Linked DNA regions of Homo sapiens. The protein of the gene in region 2 interacts with the protein of the main gene of each other region in a pairwise test. Each region holds a gene or a part of one and is shown on either strand. Other genes may lie near its edges.

Region 1 (4,016 bases), about 49 Mb from region 2:
ACCACATCAAGGACAAGTGACATTGCTATTAGAGAACAGATAAATCCATTTCTTTCTTTCTTTTTTGCTTTTGAGACAGGGTCTTGCTCACTCAGCCTGGAGTGCAGTGACGCAATCATGACTCACTGCAGCCTCGACCTCCTGGGCTCAAGTGATCCTCCCACCTCAGCCTCTCAAGTAGCGAGGACTACAAGCATGTACCACCACACTCAGCTATGTTTTGTTTTTTTTTTTTACGACAGAGTCTCACTATGCTGCCCAGGCTGGTCTTGAACTCCTGGGCTCAAGTGATCCTCCCACCTTCGCCCCCGAAGCCATTTCTTGATGCCCTAAAGAAGAAAAGTTCTAAGTGGATGTCATCACTATTAATCACCTGACAAGCACTGATCAGGCTGTATGCACAGAATTTGACAGTGGACAAACTTTTCTGTCCACCGTTCCTAAGAAAGGGGATTTCTATAAATGAAATCTCATCAGAAGAAAGGTTGGAAACCTGGCCAGGCACGGTGGCTCATGCCTGTAATCCCAGCACTTTGGGAGGCTGAGGTGGGAGGATCACGAGGTCAGGAGATCGAGACCGTCCTGGCTAACACAGTGAAACCCCATCTCTACTAAAAATACAAAAAATTAGCCAGGTGTGGTGGCGGGTGCCTGTAGTCCCAGCTGCTCGGGAGGCTGAGGCAGGAGAATGGCGTGAACCCGGGAGGCGGAGCTTGCACTGAGCCGAGATCGCCCACTGCACTCCAGCCTGGACAACAGAGTGAGACTCCATCTCAAAAAAAAAAGAAAGGTAGGAACCCAGTGTAAGTTATATATAAACATTTACTTAATATCATAAACGAACTTTGTTCAAAAACTCTTTCGACTGATTTCTGTTAGCTGAATCTTTTATTCAATCCCTTATCTAAAAATAAACAGAAGGCCAGGTGCGGTGGTTCATGCCTGTAACCTCAACACTTTGGGAGGCCAAGGTGGGTGGATCACGAGGTCAGGAGATCGAGACCATCCTGGCTAACATGGTAAAACCCCGTCTCTACTAAAAATACAAAAAATTAGCCGGGCATGGCGGCCAGCGCCTGTAGTTCCAGCTACTCGGGAGGCTGAGGCAGGAGGATGGTGCGAACCTGGGAGGCAGAGCTTGCAGTGAGCCAAGATAGCGCCACTGCACTCCAGCCTGGGCGACAGCAACACTCCGTCTCAAAAATAAACAAACAAACAAACAAACAAACAAACAGAAAACAGGCTGGGCACAGTGGCTCACACCTGTAGTCTCAGCACTTTGGGAGGCCAAGGCAGGTGGATTGCTTGAGGCCAAGAATTCAAGACCAACCTGGCCAACATGTCAAAATCCATCTCTACTAAAAATACAAAAATTAGCTGGACATGGTGGTGTGTGCCTGTAGTCCCAACTACTCTGCAAGCTGAGGCATGAGAATCACTTGAACCTGGGAGGCGGAGGCTGCAGTGAGCCAAGATTGTGCCACCACACTCCAGCCTGGGCGATAGAGTGAGACTCTGTCAAAAAAAAAAGGAAAACAATTAATTGCTTTAGGATCTTCTAAAGGAAAAGGAATCTCCCCTGCCCTCTGGCCAGGGACCCCTACAGTACACCCCAAGTTAAGCTACATATTATAAAAGCCCTCTTATTCCACGCATTCAGTTCCAGTACCAGGTGGGGTTCATCAGAGATAAATCCAGCAACCATTTAAAATGATATGTGAAAGTGTATGTATACACACACTTCAGACATTTTGTTTTGACTTAATATACAAAAGTATATTCATTTGACAATCTTTTGAAATAGAGCTGAGTAGGTCTTATGAGTTCACTGAATAGAGCTCTTTTTTTAATAAACCATACCATTGTATTGTCTGCAATTTCCACAATTTACAGTTTGGGGGTTTTTAAAATATTTTTTGAGACTAAGTCTTGCTCTGTCACTCAGTCTGGAAGGCAGTTGCACTATCTCGGCTCACTGCAACCTCCACCTCCCGGGTTCAAGCGATTCTCCTGCCTCAACCTTTCCAGTAGGTGGGATTACAGGCGTGTGCCATGACGCCCGGCTAATTTTTGTATTTTTAGTAGAGACAGGGTTTCACCATGTTGGCCAGGATGGTCTCAAACTCCTGACCTCAAGTGATCCACCAACCTTGGCCTCCCAAAGTGCAGGGATTACAGGTGTGAGCCACCGTGCCCAGCCTGGGTTTTTCTTAAATAAGGCAAGATTGCAAAAATTTGCAAGGCAATCTAAGTGCAGAATCTTCCTCAGTTTTTACAAAATTCCTCCCAATCTTTTATAGCTGACCCACTCATCCATAATTTCATAGCATTTCCTGAGTCAGCATTCAACTTAGGCTTCCTAGGAATAATTCTTTTTATAATCGATTTTCATCAGTTCATATAATCTTTTATGAAATTATATAATTACAGTAATAAGAACTAGCCCAACAGCTTTGGAATATATCCAACATCTCTTATGAGCCCCCAGGGCTAAAGTGTGCTGAAAGAAGTGGGGAGCGCCAGTTATATGGAGGCCAAGGAAGAGAACATCTCCTGTGTATAAAAGCTATTTATAAACCACTGTAGATAGAGCCTACATTTTCAAATTATTTTCTAAAAGACTCACCAGGTAAGGATGAAAGAATTTCTATATCTACTTGCTGGGTCTCTGGATTGTGGCTTAATATTCTTCCTTCCTTTCAAAAATAAAAGTCCAAGTCAAAATCAACATGTAAAACACTGTGAATATACTAAAAACCACTGAATTGTAGACTTTAAAATGGTTAAAATGTTGAATTTTATGTTATGTGAATTTTATCTCAGTTGAAAAATTTAGAAATAAATCCACATATAGAGAAAATAAAAACAGGTGGACTGATAAACACTTTATGTGAATATACAGAAATATCTTTAGAGGCAAAATAAAACATTTAAATCATAAATGGCAGACACTATCTTAAATAACTCGATGAAAGTAAAGATTACACCAGGGAACCAAAAGTGACTGAATAAGGGAAAAGGAGAAAAAAATCACACCAGGCTGATATATTCAAGTGAGCACTGACCATCACAGCATTCATCAGGAGAGACTAGATATATCCTAATGGTGCAGCCTCGGTTCCTGATGCTTTTAGAACCCTTCTAAAACAGTGATCACAACCCCCCAGGAGAAACCAGAAGGCACTTTATCACTGTTAAGATCCCAATTCTCCTTCTCCCAGGTCTCCAGCTGTGGGAGCTGATTTTCTAATGCATCAAGAGGATGCACTGCCCATGCACGTGGGCGATGGGGAGACACATGGTAGCCTCCGGGGGTATATACTGAGAGGCCAAGCAACCAGTTCCTCCTGCCTCTACCTGGAATTTCTGAGCACAGTCAACAGTTTTTTTTAAAACCAGACTCAACAGGGAATCAGGGGCTTGGGAGACTACATTTTTTAGTACAGAATTGAACCAATTTAATTTTTGGAGACAAGGTTAATGAATAAAGCAGATGATCAAGCTGGATAACTGCGTTTGAGGTCAAAGCAAAAAAGTAGGACCAATTTTCATTCTTAAAATGTTTTTGAAAGCAATTTCAAAAATCTTCAAAAAATTTTGCCAACTAAAGTAGGCAAAACACCTTCCAACATTAATAACTATGACAACTAATACCAATTTAATATGCAATTTTTTTTAAGAGTCTCGTTTTGTCACCCAGGCTGGAGTGCAGTGGCATGATCTCAGCTCACTGCAACCCCCACCTACTGCGTTCAAGTGATTCTTGTGCCTCAGTCTCCTGAGTAGCTGGGGCTACAGGTGCACGCCACCATGCCAGGCTCATTTTTATATTTTTAGTAGAGATGGGGTTTTGCCATGTTGGCCAGGCTGGTCTCGAACTCCTGACCTCAAGTGATTCACCTACCTTGGCCTCCCAAAGTGCTGGGATTACAGGCATGAGCCACTGTGCCTGGCCATTAATAAGCAATTTTTAAAAATCAGTATCATCTAGAATTACAATTTATAGAGGTTGTGGG
Region 2 (2,763 bases):
ATTACAGGCATGAGCCACCACACCCAGCCTCATTTTTGTATTTTTAGTAGAGACAGGGTTTCACCATGTTGGCCAGGCTGGTCTCGAACTCCTGACCTCAAGTGATCCACCTGCCTTGGCCTCCCAAAGTGCTGGGATTACAGGCATGAGCCACTGTGCCCGGCCATTCCTCCCCTTCCTTTGACAGCACCGGGGTTTCAGTGTCCATGTCTCTCTCAGCGTGGCCAGCAGCAGCCGGGAGAACCCGATTCATATCTGGGACGCATTCACTGGAGAGCTCCGGGCTTCCTTTCGCGCCTACAACCACCTGGTAGGGACCGCCATACTCAGCCCCAGCACTCGTACTGGCCCGGCTCTCCTTCCTTGAGGGCAGCTGAGGCTTTGCAAGACCTGTTTTCAGCCCTTTCCTTCCCCCAGGATGAGCTGACGGCAGCCCATTCGCTCTGCTTCTCCCCGGATGGCTCCCAGCTCTTCTGTGGCTTCAACCGGACTGTGCGTGTTTTTTCCACGGCCCGGCCTGGCCGAGACTGCGAGGTCCGAGCCACATTTGGTAAGCATCTGTGCCTCCAAGGGAGGAGGAGAGGGAAGGGCACTGCCACCTGCACAGGGGCCTTTTGTGAGCCGGGGGCCACCTGTGGGGGTTCACGCCGTCCTCTGTACGGCCCCGGGAGCAGGTGCAGCCCAGTCGGCAGAGGAGCAAACAGGCTCAGAGCAGGTAGGAAACCTTCCCAAGGCCAACCAGCTGGTCAAAGGACTGCTTCCTTCCTGAACTCATACCCTGTCAGCTGTGGAGCTTTTGGTCTCTGAAATCTTTCTAGAAAATTGTTGATAAAGCTGATTCCGTTTTCCTGTAGGCCTTCAACTTGCATCTCTCCAAGGAAGAACTGGGATTTGAGAGGGATGAAGTGGGGCTTGGGCATTTAGGTCCTTTGGGAGGATAGATGTGGGGAGCATCAGAGGTCTTTGTCCTGCTTGTGACAGACAGCATGGGGGGGATGTTGAGTCCAAGCATGTTGGTGCTGGGACGGGAGACAGACCTCTGCTTAGCCTGGTTAGTGCCAGGAGCCATTGCCCCCTCCCCCACTTTGTTCCTTCCCTCTCTAGCAAAAAAGCAGGGCCAGAGCGGCATCATCTCCTGCATAGCCTTCAGCCCAGCCCAGCCCCTCTATGCCTGTGGCTCCTACGGCCGCTCCCTGGGTCTGTATGCCTGGGATGATGGCTCCCCTCTCGCCTTGCTGGGAGGGCACCAAGGGGGCATCACCCACCTCTGCTTTCATCCCGATGGCAACCGCTTCTTCTCAGGAGCCCGCAAGGTAGGGGTCACACCCTGAGAGCCCAAAGCAGCTGGGCAGCGGGGCAGGAGCAGGGATGTAGTCTGCAGTGTAGGGGAATGGGTGGGGATGGGGAAAAAATCCCAAGCTGAAGGAGTGCCTGGAGACCCCGAGGGAGGCAGGGACATCCAGGGCTTTGGGGGTGACTCCAGGTCCTGTTCCTTGTCTCCAGGATGCTGAGCTCCTGTGCTGGGATCTCCGGCAGTCTGGTTACCCACTGTGGTCCCTGGGTCGAGAGGTGACCACCAATCAGCGCATCTACTTCGATCTGGACCCGTGAGTGGCTGTGACTCCTTCCTACACAGGGCCCTGATAAGCCTAGGAATGCCAGAGCCCAGCTGTAGGGTCCCAGTCCCTGGGTGTGAGGGGTTCCTGCCCCAGGGGTGAGGCCTCTGCCAGCAAATCTCTCCTCTCTCTCGCAGGACCGGGCAGTTCCTAGTGAGTGGCAGCACGAGCGGGGCTGTCTCTGTGTGGGACACGGACGGGCCTGGCAATGATGGGAAGCCGGAGCCCGTGTTGAGTTTTCTGCCCCAGAAGGACTGCACCAATGGCGTGAGGTCCTCAGTTCAATTCCAGAGATGTTGGGGCTTGGGTTGGGGAGGGAGGTGAATCCCAGAGGGAGCAAGTGTCCTCACTGAAGGCACTGATAGACCCTCCCCATCTCTCCCTCAGCCTGCACCCTAGCCTGCCTCTCCTGGCCACTGCCTCCGGTCAGCGTGTGTTTCCTGAGCCCACAGAGAGTGGGGACGAAGGAGAGGAGCTGGGCCTTCCCTTGCTCTCCACGCGCCACGTCCACCTTGAATGTCGGCTTCAGCTCTGGTGGTGTGGGGGGGCGCCAGACTCCAGCATCCCTGATGATCACCAGGGCGAGAAAGGGCAGGGAGGAACGGAGGGAGGTGTGGGTGAGCTGATATAAAAAGGTTTTTATGATACTAGAGTCTTCGTGTCTGTTTTGGGGGGGCATATGAGTGAGGTGGGGGACCAGGCAGGGGGACTGGCGGGCTCCCTGGTCCAGCAGCAGTGGGTATGGCATATTGGTCCTGAAACCAGGCGTTGAGAGGTGGGACCAGGCAGGAGCCAATGGGGCGGCTGAGCTTGGTGTGAAGTCAAGTGGGTGGGGGTGGGGCTTCATGCCATTGACTGGTTGGTTGCTAGGCAACTTGGTAAACTGAAGGGGGAAACCTGTTTGAAATCTCACTCCCAAGGTGGGGGCGGCAGGGGTCAGGGTGAGCGGGGCTGAGCAGGAGCTGGGTCAGACTGTTGGGTGTGACCGTGTGAGACTGTGCAGACAGTGACAGGGCGCCTGTCGCCCACACTCCACACTGTTTGCCATTCTCCAGCAGCATGGGGACCATTACTCAGCTCTGAGGGGAGCAGGAGCACTCTCCTCCGCTCCCCGGGGCTCCCCAGGAGGCAGACAACCCAGTTGCCA

Evidence for each region.
Region 1: the proteins of WRAP53 (region 2) and COIL interact in binary tests that used the Homo sapiens proteins (3 or more experiments, as listed by UniProt).

Annotation. Positions count from the first base shown.
Region 1 is NC_000017.11:56,943,816-56,947,831, forward strand, and holds part of COIL (coilin), read right to left. Parts: intron 2,697-4,016; coding exon 2,627-2,696; intron 1-2,626. UniProt on the Homo sapiens protein: Component of nuclear coiled bodies, also known as Cajal bodies or CBs, which are involved in the modification and assembly of nucleoplasmic snRNPs.
Region 2 is NC_000017.11:7,701,240-7,704,002, forward strand, and holds the end of WRAP53 (telomerase Cajal body protein 1), read left to right. Parts: intron 1-219; coding exon 220-310; intron 311-417; coding exon 418-550; intron 551-1,104; coding exon 1,105-1,313; intron 1,314-1,503; coding exon 1,504-1,607; intron 1,608-1,753; coding exon 1,754-1,888; intron 1,889-2,003; coding exon 2,004-2,247; 3' UTR 2,248-2,263; downstream 2,264-2,763. UniProt on the Homo sapiens protein: RNA chaperone that plays a key role in telomere maintenance and RNA localization to Cajal bodies. Specifically recognizes and binds the Cajal body box (CAB box) present in both small Cajal body RNAs (scaRNAs) and telomerase RNA template component (TERC).